Linked DNA regions of Homo sapiens: all the other regions are linked to region 1. The links come from fine-mapping of genetic effects on gene expression. A gene starts in region 1. Each other region holds a variant in brackets. All regions are shown on one strand. Distances are from middle to middle. Region 1 holds the start of KIF26B (kinesin family member 26B). Region 2 overlaps KIF26B (kinesin family member 26B). Region 3 overlaps KIF26B (kinesin family member 26B).

What was found. PIP is the estimated chance that this variant, and not a neighbour inherited with it, causes the effect. A credible set is the group of variants that fine-mapping cannot tell apart.
Region 2: its variant is the best candidate, but not a certain one, in a credible set for the expression of KIF26B in sigmoid colon (GTEx, PIP 0.76).
Region 3: its variant is the best candidate, but not a certain one, in a credible set for the expression of KIF26B in blood mononuclear cells (TOPMed, PIP 0.58).

What each region holds. Positions count from the first base shown.
Region 1 is chr1:245,152,059-245,157,395 of GRCh38, forward strand. It overlaps KIF26B (kinesin family member 26B), which reads left to right and starts at 2,927. Exons shown (of 15, transcript NM_018012.4): 1 at 2,927-3,429; 2 at 4,224-4,625. The coding sequence starts at 3,367. RefSeq lists enhancers at 1,063-1,738, 1,739-2,414 and silencers at 2,269-2,468, 4,336-4,875.
Region 2 is chr1:245,611,556-245,616,892 of GRCh38, forward strand. KIF26B (kinesin family member 26B) reads left to right here. Exons shown (of 15, transcript NM_018012.4): 9 at 238-421. Among named protein-coding and RNA genes, the nearest start is that of KIF26B-AS1, 380 kb to the left of the region's middle. RefSeq lists enhancers at 1-363, 364-864. The variant C/A (reference allele first, on the strand shown) is at 2,422.
Region 3 is chr1:245,509,914-245,515,250 of GRCh38, forward strand. All of the region lies in intron 4 of KIF26B (kinesin family member 26B), which reads left to right. Among named protein-coding and RNA genes, the nearest start is that of KIF26B-AS1, 280 kb to the left of the region's middle. The variant A/C (reference allele first, on the strand shown) is at 3,203.

The sequences.
Region 1 (5,337 bases):
AAGAAATGACCCAGTTAGAAACTTGCCTCTAAAGGAAAAAAAATAAAGAGCCCCAGACATGACAAAACTGGGTAAATATAAAAAACTTGACATTTTCACTGAAAGACAACAGATTGTTTCAAGTAAAATTGATGAAATTGTTTTGTGGATTTTATAATGCATGTAGATGTAAAATATATCAAATTAGTAGCACAAAGGAGGAAGGTAAGATGGAGAGGTTGCAAGTCTACATTTTAGGTGAAGCGGCACAATGTTAATTCTAAGTAGCCTATGAAATGTTAAAGATTCATATTATAGGCCAGGTATGGTGGTTTCATGCCATAATCCCAGCACTTTGGAAGGCGGAGGCGGGAAGACAGCTTGAGCTCAGGAGTTTGAGACCAGCCTGGGCAACACAGGGAAACCTTGTCTCTACTTAAAAAAAAAAAAAATTAGCCAGGTGTGGTGGTGTGCACCTGTAGTCCCAGCTACTAGGGAGGCTGAGGAGAGAGGATCATTTGAGCCTGGGAGATGGAGGCTGCCGTGTGCCATAATAGCGCCACTGCACTCTAGCCCAGGCAACAGAGTGAGCCCCTGCCTCAAAAAAAAAATCCATATTATAATCATCAGAGCTAAAAAGTCAACAGAGAGATGAAACTGGAATACTGAAAAGTTATTCAATTAACAAAAAAAGGCATGAGAGACAGAAGAATGAAAGAGAGTAGAGATAGAAAACAGACCCATACTAGCAACAACATGAAACTCAAAAACCTGTGTTAAGTGAAAAAAGCCAAACCCAAAAGAGTACATGCTGTACGGATTCTATGAATTAAAAACCCTTCCAGATCAGTCCACACTAACCCATGCTGATAGAAATCAGAACAGTAGTTTCTTATGAGAGGTGGGGATTGCCTGGGAAAAGGTAGATAACCTTCAAGAGGGACAGGAATTTATAGATGTTGATCGAGGTGGTGGCCTACGCAGAGTACACGTTTGTCAAAATTCATAGAACTTAACAATTAAAATGTGTGCGTTTCATCTTATGTATATACATTTTACATAAACATCAATTTTTGAAAGCTTCTTAAAAACTCTTGCAGAGCCTCCGGTTATAAACTTTAATCAACAGAGGGCGCTCGGAGCCCACCAAACACGCTTTGGGCCCCCAGCTACTTAGAAATGCAAATCAGAGCAGCTCTGGGCTCCCCCGTCTCCGAGGTGGATCGCGCAGCTCCCCAACACTCCCCCTCGACACCCCACCTTCCCCACCCGCGGCCTCGCCGGCTCGTTTCACCACACGCTGCTTTTTGGCTGATAAGCGGCTCGTGGCCAATGGCGATGATGTGTTTCGCGGCACCTACGCGAAATACAGATGCGGGTGGGAGCTGGCGCGTGCTGCCTGGAGGTGTACCTGCCCCCTAAGGTCCCCTATTGATAGGATCGCTTTTAAATTGGAAGTGGGAACGTAACGGAAACGTCCACTCTGTTCTTGCCATCTTCCTTTTGACCTTTTTACCTCGCTTTGGTGGCTGTGAAATATTCCCGCGCAGGAGCTGGAGCGGGGAGGAGTGGGGCAGAGCACGGGAGGCACAGAAGAAATTGTCCCCGAGGAAGGCAGAGTGGGGGCGTGGCCCCAGGCTTCCAGAACCCCGAACCTTTGTCTTCTTGCCCCCTCCTGCGTCGTCCACAGCTCAGAAGGAAGTCAGCGACCAGAAAGCCCTGAACGTCCTTCGCGCCCTCGCCCACCCCCGGGCTGGGTCTCCCCGCGGGCGCGGAGATGCCGTTACACCCCACGTGATCCCTGCGCCCGGCCAGTCCTTCCAGAGGCGTCTCGCGGGGTGTTAATTAAAGGTCACAACAAAACAGACCTGCTGGCTCACCAGAAGAAATGTCCTCCCGTGAAATGAAAAATGACACCCCAGAGCAGCCACGTGTGGAGCCTGGCATACGCCGGCTTCCTGCGCTCCTGGGCGCTGCGCCGGGGGACTGGGGCGGGGGGCGATCGGAGAGGGAGCGATGACGGGGTGCTCCGGAGACCCCGCGGGGCCCAGGCGCAGGAAGAAACGGGCGGCGGGGGGCGAGGGGCCCGATCCCACGCAAGGAGAGGCCAAGGCCAGCTCGCGCCACACCCCCTCTCCAGGCCAGAGTCGTCCGCGTGCAGCGCGGCGAAGCCCTCAGTTTCCCCTGCCCGGCAGCGGCCCGCTGGGTCACCAGGCTCACCTGTCCCAGCCCCGGGCGGCTTAGTCCATCACAGACCGGGGCTCGGGCGGGCGGGGGACCAAGGGCCCTAGTCCTGCGGCTGCGGTCGGGGAGGGTGGCCCCCCGGCCGGCCCGGGGTCGGTAGGGCAATTCCAGAAAAGGTTTGCCCGGCAGCTCTCCGAGAACAAAGGGCGGGGGGAGGACCCGGCATGTTTGTGGACTTGTTTGTGACTCAATCCCTTTTGCACGGCGTTTCACAGACAGACCTGCAAGCCTTGTCAGGAAGAGAAAGAACTTGGGGGCGGGGGAGGCTGGGGCACCGCATTTCCGTCCAGCCACGCTCGCTCGCGCGGCCCCCGGGCTCCAGGCTCGCGCAGCGGCGTTTCATTAGAGCCCCGGGCCCGGGCCGCGCGCCAGGAACTTCCCCGCACGCGGCGAGATCGACGATCCCCCGCCCCCAGCCCCAGCCCGGCTCCAGGCCTCGCAATGTCAGGCACGAGCGCCGCCACATAAAATGGATCCCGGCCGGCGCGGCGAGGGCGGCAGGTTCCCGAGGCTCCTCCGCGCTGCGCCCGGGCGCACACGCGCGCTGTGACCGCCGACCGCTCCCGGGCCACGCGGAGCCGCCCCTCTCCCGGCCCTCGCGCAACTGTCAGGCGAAACGGGCCGGCGGATATTGGCTCGGCGACACGCCGAGGCTCCTCCCCGAGTCTGGATCTTTATATTTTGGGAGAATTTCTTTGAACTCAGTTACCAAGCTCGGTGAAGGAGACAAGTTCCCACAGCTGACTCGGCTCGGCTCTCCCACCTTCCCGGCAGCGGCCGCGAGCCCTGATTGTATCCCTCGCTTTCCTCGTGGGGGAGCACGGACTGACTTGGCTGAAGAAAATGCCAGTTCTGTGGATGTGGCCGTGACAAGAGGACGTGCGGCTGGAAGAGGCAGAAGGGGACGAGGAAAAGCATGCTTTGAAGAGAAGAATAAACCAGCGACCCCAACCCTTTCTGCAAATTGGTGCTATTACTTGTGGGATCCATTTGCTTTCATTCCCTCCCACCCCACCGCTGAAGAAACCTTGCCCTGAGGGCTGAGAGCCAGCCCCCTGCAGCCGGGGGACGCTTCTGGGTTGGAGGACCTTCTGGATGTAGCGTCGGTGGAACCTTTAGATACTCTCCTCTGGAAAAGCCACCATGAATTCGGTAGCTGGGAATAAAGAGAGGCTTGCGGTCTCCACCAGGGGCAAGAAATACGGGGTAAGTTGTGACGGTACGACGCGGAGACGCGTTACCAGACCCATCTCGGCGGAGGTCCCCCTTTCCCCGGGATCGTGCGGCCCCGGCCCCGAGCTCTCCCCCGCTGCAGAGGCGCCCCCGGGGCTGGCGGGGTTGTGAGTGCGCGGAGGCGGGTCGGCCGCGGGGACGCCCGCACGCTCGCCTCGCTCTCGGAATTTTTTCAGCCCTCTCGTTCCTTCCTTTCCACGCACCCGTAACTTTTGCCGCATTCCTGCACTTCTAGGCAGAGTGAAGCCGAAGGGGAGGGTTTCCCATGAATGCTGGGCAGTACCTCGGATCGTTTAGCTGGAGCCGTGAGAGCCTCTCGTTTACCTGCAGGATCCGGAGAGTTGGACCCCGTATGAATAAAAATCCTGAAATCACAGCCCTCCCCCTACCCCCCCCATAGGGTCTTCCAGGATTTTGTTCCCGGGATCTTGCTGGGATAGGTGCCGGCTTCAAAAGCGTGGGGCGCTGAACCTATGGATCCCCCCCGCCTTGCAGAAGCCGTGGAAACGGCCCCGAGCGAGTCCCCTTCCTGACCCCAGGAGGAGGCCACCGGGGACCAGCGCAGGGGTCACCTGGGCGGTGGGGACTCACTTAAGGACAATTAACGAGACAGACGGAGGGCAATTTGGCCGCAGGGCTTGGAGAGGTCCCCAACCGACTCCCGTGGGCGGTTCGAGCGGGTACTTGGTGGCGCACGTATGACCCAGCTCCTGGGCGCTGCAGCCCGCCGCCTTGCAGCCCCTGACACCGGCGTGTCTTCCCCGCAGGTGAATGAAGTCTGCTCGCCCACCAAGCCCGCAGCGCCCTTCTCCCCGGAAAGCTGGTACCGGAAAGCATACGAGGAGTCGCGCGCCGGCAGCCGGCCCACTCCTGAGGGCGCGGGCTCAGCGCTCGGCTCCTCGGGGACCCCGTCTCCCGGCTCGGGCACCTCGTCCCCGAGCTCGTTCACCGGCTCCCCGGGACCCGCCTCCCCCGGCATCGGCACTAGTTCGCCGGGCTCCTTGGGCGGCTCTCCGGGCTTCGGCACAGGCTCCCCGGGCTCCGGCAGCGGCGGCGGCTCCTCCCCCGGCTCGGACCGCGGCGTCTGGTGCGAGAACTGCAACGCCCGCCTGGTGGAGCTCAAGAGGCAGGCCCTGAGGTTGCTCCTCCCGGGGCCCTTCCCGGGCAAGGTGAGCGCCGCGCGGGGCTGGCTGGGGAGGCGCCGGGAGGGCGGGGCCGGGCCGCCACCCACAGCAGCTGCTCAGCCCGCCGCGACCTTGCGCGCCGGCTCCACGCGAGAGCCCCCGGCGGCGCTGGGGATGCTCCACACCTCACGGGGCTCTAGCACGCGGGGCGACCCATGCCCCTTCCTCAGCCAGGCCGCCCGGGGGGCAGGAGGACCGAGTCCCGAGCGCGAAGGGGCGCCCGTGGCCACAGGCCTCACGGCCCACGGGGGAGGCCCCCAGGTGGTCTCTCCTGCCGCCCCCTCCCAGCTCTCCCTGGCGGCTGCAGGCTGCGCTTTCGATGTTTCTCCCCACCCCCACCTGTGATCCTTTACAAAAATGTCAGCGGGAGCTGTAAAAGCAAGCTGATGCTCGGAGCTGGCATTTCCCACTGCCTGTTTGTGGTCCATCCTTTCCGCGGTTGCAGAAACAGAAACATACTCGAAAGCCAGCATTTTCCCCTTCTCAGTCTGTGTGTGTGTCTGAGGAAGATCCGGAGGCGGGTGGCTCTTCGGAGCAGTGCTCCCTCCTGGCCTGCTCCTGCGCCAAGCACACTGGTTCCTCCATAGCAACCCTGCCCGCAGTGTGTGACTGGCCCGAGCCCCCAGGGGATAGCAATGCGATTGTATTTGCACTGTTGGGTCCAAGTACTATCAAATGATCATATTTACTCGGCCAC
Region 2 (5,337 bases), 460 kb after region 1:
AAAATAGGTTTCATCCAATAAGTATGCTCAATATTAATTTTCAGAAATGAATTAATTAAGCTGAGAATTGCACATGAGCATAGCACCTTGTTTCAGAAGGGTTTTCAGCCTTAGAGGGGCACGTGGCTTTACTATACAGAACACACAGCCAGCTGAATGGTGCTGGGGACACCCAGGCATGAGTGACAGCAAGCCCTCCTCAGCCTGCAGCCTCATCTCTTGGCTTCTGTCTTCCAGCTGCAGAACCAGAGCGAGCTGCGGGCCCCCACCGCAGAGAAGGCTGCCTTTTTCCTGGATGCCGCCATTGCCTCCCGCAGGAGCCACCAACAGGACTGTGATGAGGACGACCACCGCAACTCACACGTGTTCTTCACACTGCACATCTACCAGTACCGGATGGAGAAGAGCGGGAAAGGGGGAAGTAAGTCGGCCACTCCACCCTCCTGCCTCCTTAGCGGCTCTGGCCCCAGCCAGAAATCCCTTGGGCAACCATGACCTTTGTGTGTGTGTGTGTGTGTGTGTGTGTGTGTGTGTGTGTGTGTGTGTGTGTGAGAGAGAGAGAGAGAGAGAGAGAGACAGGGTCTTGCTCTGTCACCCAGGCTGCAGTGCAGTGGCACGATCACAGCTCACTGCAGCCTCAAACTCCTGGGCTCAAGTGATCCTCCTGCCTCAGTCTCCCAAGTAGCTTGGGACTACAGGCTCATGCCACCACACCTAGCTATTTATTTGGTTATCTTTGTAGAGATGGGACCTTGCTATGTTGCCCAGGCTGGTCTAGAACTCCCGGTCTTGAGATCCTCTTGCCTTGATCTCCCAAAGTGTTGGGATGAAAGGTATGAGCCACCATGCCTAGCCAAACTTTTCTTAATAGACTACAATATGCAGTTCAGTGACTCGTAATTCAAGATAATTATAGTATCTGGGCTGAAGTTCACTTTTGAACTGTCCAGGGAAAGGAGTTTGCTTTGGTAAAGGTAATTTACAAATGTCATTGCCATGAGAATGTGAGAGGTCAAAGTTACAAAAAGAAAACAACTGCCTGACAGTATCTTTTTGTTCACAGACCTCAAAAATGCTCCTCAAGAAAGACCAACATTTATCCACCAAAGCACTCCGGCAGTGTGTTATCATCATTAGCTCGAGGCCACTGTATGGACCATGTTTTTTAAAATAGCATAGAAATCAGACTTTTGAATAACTACCCAGACCCTGGCTGCCTCCCTCAAATCGTCAGTGAAGGTTTACTGTCAAAACCCAGGTACGGTGCCTGCTCTTCGAGTGAGCTGCCCTGCCAGGAACCCAACACTGTGCCCCTACAGACCCCTCTTGGCTGTGTTTCCAAAGTCAGCCCGGGCTGGGGTGCAATTCTCTGCCTTCTGTGAAGTAGTGTTTACTCTATGCCCAAAAGAGTTGAGCACCAGATCAGCTGAATGTCTCCAGTGGGGATCTTGGACCAGGGGCAAAGTGGTCTGTTGATTTCACTGGGTTCCTAAGGCAGGTTGTGGGTAACGGGGCTGCTGGGCTGGCCGGGCAGTGGCTTCCGTGGTTCCTCCATGTCCCGCTCTGCCGGGCTTTCAATACACAGGCAACTGGCTCCCAGCGCTTTCTGCATGATTGTCTCAAAGACACTGGATGCCAGAAAAACAATCAGAAAACTGAGTTAAGAGTCTAACCCTGGACTGGAAATTGTAAAGCTCATTGAGTAAAGCAGAGATGGTCCGCAAAGCTGTTGTAGATGAAGCCTAGAATGAAGACATCCAAGTAGGACCAGGCGTGGTGGCTCACACCTGTAATCCCAGCACTTTGGAAGGCCAAGGTGGTTAGATCACTTGAGGTCAGCAGTTTGAGACCAGCCTGGCCAACATGGAGAAACCCCGTCTCTACTAAAAATAAAAAAATTAGCTGGGCGTGGTGGCACACACCTCCCAGCTAGTTGGGGGTCTGAGGCAGGAGAATTGCTTGAACCCAGGAGGCGGAGGTTGCAGTGAGCCCAGATCGTGCCACTGCACTCCAGCCTGGGTGACAGAGCAAGGCTCTGTCTCAGAAAATAAAAATAAAAAGACTTCCAGCTGGGATCTATGGACAGGCTCCCCCTGATTTCCCCTAAGCCTCCTCGTGGCTCAAAAGACCTGGACAACAGTACTCCTGGGGAGAGAGCTCTTTGCGGGCTTCTGCTGTCCCCAGGCAAAAGCGCCTCCCTTCCCCCACCTCGGTGCCTCTCTTCCTACTCTTTAGTTACTGTTGTTAAAATCCAGGTTTATTGCAGTATAAGGTACATTCACCAAAACATCACTTTGATGTGTCTTTAGATGAGTTTTGGCCAATCTATACAGTCATGTAGCCACCACCATTATCAAAATAGAGCATAAGGCTAAAGTTCCCTCTTGCCGTTTGTCCCTTCCCCTGACCTCTAGCCCCTGG[C/A]AACCACGGATCTGATTGTTGTCCTGGTTTTGCGTTTATCCAGGATATCGTGGGAATGGACTCGTGTGGCCCAGATGTGGCCTTTTGTGTCTGGCTTCTTTCACGTAGTGTCCTAATGCATTTGAGACTCCCCCATGCTGCAGCACGCGTCTCTTGTTTCTTCTGGTTCCTGCTGCCTGTTCTGCCTGCTCCTTTAGTTTTTTTGTTTGTTTGAGATGAAGTCTCACTCACTCTGTTGCCCAGGCTGGAGTACAGTGGCGTGATCTCGGCTCACTGCAACCTCCGCCTCCCGAGTTCAAGCGATTCTCCTGCCTCAGCCTCCTGAGTAGCTGGGAATACAGGTGCCCACCACCATGTCTGGCTAATTTTTGTACGTTAAGTAGAGACGGAGTTTCACCATATTGGCCAGGATGGTCTTGAACTCCTGACCTCGTGATCCACCCGCCTCAGCCTCCCAAAGTGTTGGGATTACAGGCGTGAGCCACCGCACCTGGCCTCTCCTTCAGTTTTGACTGGGCCTGGAGGCTTGGTTCCTACCCTACCACCAGGACAGAATGAAAATATCCACAGCTGGGGCTGGAGTTCCTCTAACTGGGGCTGCTTTTTATGGCTCTGAAAATCAGCCCTGAGCTGCCTCCAGTGGCTGCTGTGAAGAACCGAGAGGTTCTGGTCCTCACTTACAGCGGGCGAGGCGCCCCAGGGAAGTGGCCCATTAGCTTGAGGGCAGCTCTCTCGACAGCCCATGATGGTGAGCAAAGTCTCACTGGAGAGGAGCCGAGGATAGTGAACGGGAATCTCTCGGGAGATGTATTCTTGGTAACAGGCTCACACCATGTAGAGCGCTTCCGTTTAGAATCACGTTCTTAAAGAAGGAAACGCATTCGGATAGGGATGAGGAGATGCAGACCTTTAAAATCGGATAGGGATGAGGAGATGCAGACCTTTAAAATCGGATAGGGATGAGGAGATGCAGACCTTTAAAATCGGATAGGGATGAGGAGATGCAGACCTTTAAAATCGGATAGGGATGAGGAGATGCAGACCTTTAAAATCGACAGCACAATTGCATCCACATTTCTCCTGACTGTGTGGGAGTTGGCCTTGAACCCTGCCCTCACTGTTTTCTCCTGGGTAGTGTCTTCACCCTGTCAATGTAAGAGTCTGACAAATGTTTAGTTTATTCTTTTAAGCAGCTGTCAGTAATCATCATCATCAGAGCCTGCAGGACTTTCTTGTACTTTCAGTAAAGAGTGACTCGCAAAACATCTAACCCTTGAGCCAAATGACTCCCAAATGGCACTGATCAGAAAAACTTGGGAGATGGGATTATCTCTCCTCCTTCCAGGTTTCAAACCAAACTGAGGACAACTCTGTTTTCGGTTTTGTACTTTTTTTCTTTTTTGCAGTTCTGCTTTCGATTTGGAATCTGAAAGTAGGGAGAAATCTTGAAAACAAGGAAACAGTTCATTAAATGACTTCAAATATAAGAACTTGAAATTCAGATTCCACAAAAGTTTAGGCCAAGACATTCCCTAAACCCAGTGATCCACCCCAAATCAGTACCTAAGGAATCCTGCACCCTTATTAAATATTTAATAGCCAGCTCATCTTCTTCCTATTTTTAAGTTGTGAAAGAGAATTGCTTTTAAATAATGCATTCAGGTTAAAAGAAAGGGCAAATACCACGAATGGTTTCCAAAACCTCGGTTAGGTCCTTCCTAATGTTTCAGTGGATGAGAACAAAGAAGGGGAAGGAGTCCAGGGGTCGTGCGATCGGCAGACCTGGGGGACATCTCTTCCCTCCCGAGGGGAAAGGATCCCGGCCAGAATGCACACGGCCTCCCCGCCTGGGACTCACTTGACTTCAGTGAATTTATAACTGTTTAAAATATAATGAGGAGATTTGGAGGGTTGTTTAAAATGGAAATTTTGTTTACTTACATATAAGTAATAATCCCTGCGGACCTGGCAGCCAGAACTCAATTAGGGGAAAGTTTATTAATTAGTCACCCTGCAGGGAAGCCATTAGAAGAGATCTCTGCCGCAAGAACTAAATAGACTCTGTGTGCGCCTCTGAATCTCATATGCACACATGCATTTTATACATTTTACACACAAATGCATCTTACATTTATAATTTTACACACAAATGCATTTTACACATATAAGTAGACAGACAAAAAAAAGTTTTAAACATTTCCAGTCAAAATAGAAAAGTCTTTGTTGATGTATCCCTGTTTTGCAGATAGCACTAGGTTAAGCTTAAAATATCTCCCTGTTTAAAAGCTCATTGGAATTAGTGGGACTGATCCTTCAGCCTCATGGAGGCCTTCCTCTGCTTTGCGAAGCTAAATCTGTAATAGCTTGAGAGCCTCCTCGGGAATCCCAGCACTGGGAAACAGACCCTGAAGCCCTACTGATCAGAGAGCTGCTTCTCATAACGACGCGTGTACTGGGCACCTAAAACAAGGTGGTGCTTGGGACCAGAAGTGTTTCAGATTTCAGATTGTTTTCCGATTTTGGAATATTTGCATATGTAATGATCCCTTGGGAATGGGACCCAAATCTAAATACAGATTTCATGTATGTTTCATATATGCCTTATAGACATAGCCTGAAGGTAACTTTATACAATATCTTCAATAATTTTGTGCATGAAACAAAGTTTTTACTGCATTTTGACTGCAACCCCTCACGAGGTCAGGTGTGGAATTTTCCCCTTGTGGCATCATATTGGCCTTCAAAAAGTTTGAGATTCTTGGAGTATTTTGGATTTCAGATTTTTTGGGTTAGGGATGCTCAGCGTGGACTAGTGATACTTCAGGGTAATGCGCTAATGATACGGAGATCGCACCTGTCCTGTTGACAAAGATAATTTCAAAAGCCCCACTTTTATGAGTAATCTAAGCATGCAAG
Region 3 (5,337 bases), 360 kb after region 1:
TGTGCTATTACAGAGCCCCGTCTGTGGGTCTCATGTCTCTGCTCCATGCCACGCCCTCCCTTGGGCATCATCTGGGCTTTGGCTGGGTCTGTGGAGGGTCCTGGGCTGCAGTGCCATGAACAGTGGAGTGGGGCATGCGAAGTTGACAGTCACACTGAAAGCTCCTGCCTCGCCTCTCTACCTTCTTCTCTTTTGGGGGTTTCTTTCCTGAGGCAGGGAAAAAGAAACAGGAACCCAGACCAAACTGAGGAAAACACGATCAGAGATGAGATGGGGTCAGAGGCAAAGGGCTGTTTGTTGGGTTTGCACTTTCATTACTGAGAGCATTGGAATAGTTTTAAGGCGTGCAAACTGTGAGACTAGACAATTTCACTTAGAAAATGAAACGTGCATGCAGATGTTATTCTCATGGGGATATATATCTGCATCTGTTTGTCTACAAGTGTTCCCTTGCAGAGTCACAGACATATACAAAACCTGGGTTCCATCAGCTTTGTCTGCACATACGTGGCTAAATGTGTACAGGGATGTACAATTAAAGATTTTAAACACTTGATTTTGACAGTATATTTTGCAGCTGCTGTGCCAAGAACCCTAAGCTACTGTGGGTTAATTGGAGTTGTAGCAAGTATTTCTTTCTCGGCTGTCTCTTTTAGCAGAGCTTCTCTCTCTCTCTCTCTCTCTCTCTCTCTCTCTCTCTCTTCCCCTCTCTCCCTGTTTCACCCCTCCCTGCCTGCCTGCCTCTGCCCCTCCCTCCCTCCCTCCCTCTCTCTCTCTGAGATAGCAGACACCAGAGTGAAACTGGTGCAGCTTCCTTTGAGAAGCGTGCTTGCATGTGCGGATTGGCAGGATTGTGTGAGCTCCTCTCCCATCCATGCACTGTTCTTGGAGGGAAATGCAATGTTGGAGCAGGGGCTGAGCTGCACTGGGAAGGTGGCTGGGAGCTCAGTGAGGCCAGGATCATGGTTTAGCCAAAGGCTGGAATCACAAGAATGTTTCACCAGGGTCTGCTCTGAGAGTTCTCAGACCCCCATGGATTTTAGAATTTTCCAGCCTTTCCTCCTTCACCTTCGCACAATTTTACTTTCTCCTGAGATGGCCCCAGATCTGCAAGAGACATTTGAGAGAAGCTATTTATTAGCAGACGTGAAGAAATGGATTCTGCACTTGATTATTTAGCCATGACTTATCAATGATGATGGATTGGAAAGCAGTGTAAGTAACGCAGTTATATATGTTGCTGGAGTTAGGTGGTCTGTTTTCTTGCTATTTTTTTTTTACTTTAACTTTTTCAGTTTCCTTTTGAGAAAAGTAAAAATAAAATGCATAAACCATTTCAAAGAAGTTAGGAGGGTCCAGGTTGTGCAAGCTTTCTTCTTGTTCAATGGACTTGCAGAATACCTAGTTCTATCAGAAGAGACACACAAACTACCGACATAGAAGCTACAAACATCCTCCGGAGGATGGGAATGAAATGGGTAATAAATGAAGAAGGTTTCTGAACTGACAGTCATTGCTATAATCAGGCTTATTCAGAGTTGCTAAAATATTTGACATTGGCTCATATTAGAATCAAAGAACTAAAATGTATTCTCTTTACAGGATCATAAAAATGAAGTTAGCCTGTGGCTTTCAGAGCAGGTTCTTTCTGGCTGCGTAAATGTGAGGGTTTTTGTTTGTTTGTTTGTTTGTTTGGTTTTGTTTTTTAACTAATGTCAAATGTTGACTATGTTTCCTGTCCATTTCAACTTTTCTTGAGGTCGGACATCTCCCTATTCTAGAGTACAATGTCTGGTCACTCTTGGGTTGCAGGCCACTGTCTAGTGGAAAGCTAGTCATTGCTAGTTTATACCAGTCAGAGACTTTTCCATCTTTCTGTGTGAGGGCTTCGTTTAAGCACTTCAATTCCTAAGTATTCAGGGAGGAAAAACAAGTCACTTGAAGACCAAAATCAGTTTATTTCACAAGAGAAAGGAACGGCTATTTAAAAGATGAAAAATTGAAATTTAAAAATATGATCTGCCTTTTCTTCAAAATCTGAAGTGAGGTTAATTTTGTGTAGGAAGAGTAACATAAGCTTTCTTGATTAAAAAGCAGTATTTAGAGGAGGCTTTTAAGATCATAAATCACTTAGGTAAGGTCATCAAAAGAGATGGCTGATATTTTTTATGGTCATTTGCAACTTTTTAAAAAAAGTCCATACGGTAATGTTAATGCAGCTATTTCTGGCTTCTTAAAACTTGCATAGATTTGGAAGTGGGATTTCTAACAATAAGAGTCGTGAGTTTTTCTGAGCTATCATTGCCTTTCTCTGTCTATCACATTCATACCTCAGGCAGAGCTACTGTCCCTCCCACCTGTCCACCCTGCCTGTTTCCCAGCCCCCATCCTTCTCTCTGAGTCTTGGAACATCATGAAAGACTCTTCTGCAGATTTCCTTTTAACATACCCTGCCCAGCCTTGGACAGAGGGAGTACTGTGAAGCAACATGCAGGGCTGCCAATTTTGGAAATGAATGAGCTTAGTTGATTCCTGAATATTAAATCAGTTCTGTGAGCAGTAGAATGAGATCATATCTTACAAACCTGACCCAAAGTGTTCCTAACAACTTTATTAATTGGGGTTTAACATCATCAAGGGCTGTAGCACTGGGCACCCGAGGGGATCAGCCTAAACCCAAATGAAATCCCCAAACTCCACTCGGATTCCTGCTGGCCAAATGCACCTAGGGCCACGCCTTCTAAAATATGTCCTTTGTTATCAAGGGAAATCTGAGACAGAAAACACATGTTGGCAGCATCATGTGAGCGCCTCTCTGCACATAAAGTGGTTGTATCACAAGGGGAAAGCTTTCGATCTTGTGCCGTTTTGTTTTGGTTTCTTGTTTATGTGGACTCTGTTAGACTCCTGCATCTGGAAGAGGCTTGAAGCAGAGTGGAAAACCTAGAGCAAAAATCATGCCGGGGAAAGGAAAATCATTAAAAAACAATGACTAAAAACAGAATAATTTTCTTACCCAAATTCCAGTTCTCATCCTTGTTTTGGGTTCCCTGTTAAAGCAGATACCAGTTATAGCCTTCCTGGGTTAGGGGAGACAGACAGTCTTTCATCATGCCCCTGGATTTTGAGCAAAGGAGAAAGCTTGCTCCAGAAATAGAAAAGAAAAGGCAAAAAGAAACCATCTTTCGAGTTTCTGCTCACT[A/C]ACAGAGGAAGCAACCCCACCCTCCTCCACACCCTCCTCCACCCCCACAGCTTGTGCCTCTCAACTGCCCCTGGTGGACAGCTCCAACCTGCACCCCCCCCCAACCCCGCCGCCCCCTCTAGAATCTCACGTGTTTTCGTGGAGGACCGAGAGTGCTTTTTAGCAGTGAATGAGCAAAGAGACCAGATATGCTGATACCTGCACATGGTCTTTGAGAGAGGCAGCTGATTGACATCGGGAAAACTGCTGAGCAATTAAAAAAAAATACTAGAGTCAAGGTGAAAGAAAGGAGAGAAAGAGACAGCGAGAGAGACAGGTGGGTTGTCTCTAAAGTTTCAAGCAAAGTTCTGTGAAGCACCTAGCAGGTCAAAACTGATAAGGGCAGATGGTGAAGAAAAGTCTTAAACTGATCAGTGCCTTACACATGGAACGAAGCTTTCATTTCGGCCCGATGTTCTGCCAGAAAGCTTTGCTTGAGATCCACCGCCAGTGTTCTTGCTTTGCTCAACGATCCCACTATGCTGGTATGTTCTCTCTCTGGACAGCCGTCTTTCTAACAACGGGTGCTGTTCTGAAAAGCTGGGAGCCCAAGAAATGTTGTAAAAACCAAGCGTGGCCTTCAGCTGTTGGACCCTGAGGAACAGCACCTGCATTAGGGCCTTGCTCACGTTTCTTACTAGACAGGTTGCCAGCTCTCATTTTTGCCCTTTGTCTGAGCTAATTGGCCTTAGTGTTACATCGGCCCACATTTTTCTCCCTGTAAACTCCATTCCTCCCTCATTTCATCTACACTGCAGAGAACTCTCAAGCTCCTGGTGAGTTTTGCTGCAAAGCCTGTGGCACGCTGAAAGAATGCACCCCTTCCGAACCTCATCTTCCCACTTCTTCCACTGGAGACACTGCGGGGGAGAAACATGTAAATATCGTTAATAACAATGCATCGCGTCCTTGAAAATTGCTGCTAAGAGAGTAGATTGTAAGTGTTCTCACCATAAAAAAGTATGTAAGATAATACATATGTTAATTAGCTCAGTCTAGCTATTCCACAATGTGTACATATTTTAAAACAATGTGTTGTACATGATAAATATATACAACTTCCACTTGTCAGTTAAAAAATAAAAAATAAGTCCAGGCGCAGTGGCTCACACCTGTAATCCCAGCACTTTGGGAGTCCGAGGCGGGCGGATCACTTGAGGTCAGGAGTTCAAGACTGGCCTAGCCAACATGGCAAAACCCCGTCTCTACTAAAAATACAAAAATGTTAGCCAGGCATGGTGGCGGGCGTCTGTAGTCCCAGCTACTCAGGAGGCTGAGGCAGGAGAATCGCTTGAACCCAGAAGGAAGAAGTTGCAGTGAGCCAAGATCCTCCACTGCATTCCAGCCTGGGCGACAGAGTAAGTGAGACTCCATCTCAAAAATAATAATAATAATAATAAAATAAAAAATAGACATTTATATAATGAAGGTTTTTAAAAAAGAAAATTAAAATAAATTTGGAGAATGACCTGTGAAAAATGCCTCTGCAAGTTTTCCTGACCAGAGGAAGGACTTGGCTTCTCTCCTAGACATTTTTTCTCGTATCTTCCTCTAGGAGTCAGTGGAAGAGTGGCGATTAGGTAACATCTGAATGTAGTAGAACCCAGAGCTGTTACCTCCATTTGAGCTACTGCTGGTCATTGCTTGACTTCTATTCTCTCCATCAGTAAAATGCACGCGAAGCTTACCTCATTAGGTTTTTCGAGAATTAAATGAGATAATGCATGGTGCTTAGCTTAGCGTCTGGCCATAGCCTTGATGTCAATACTGTCCTCATGTTCTCCTGTCAGCGGTAGGTCTGTCTCTCAGACACTTTCCAACAGAGGACCCAGATCCTTAATGACAGGGGACCTGGGAAGACAGGGAGGCAATGTCACAGAATGGAAAGCGTGCTCGAGTAGAAGTCAAGACCTGGGTGTTTGAGTCCCAGCTCTGTGCATAACCATTTGAGTGATCTTAAGAAAATGATCACCCCCTCTTCCATGCTACAGCCCTAGATGGGTTACTCCTTACTCCACCACTCTCCTCACCTTGACTCGTGCCGGTCCCTCAGCACGACGGGTCCTCCTCCTGGCTGGCTCCTTTCTTCTCTCCTT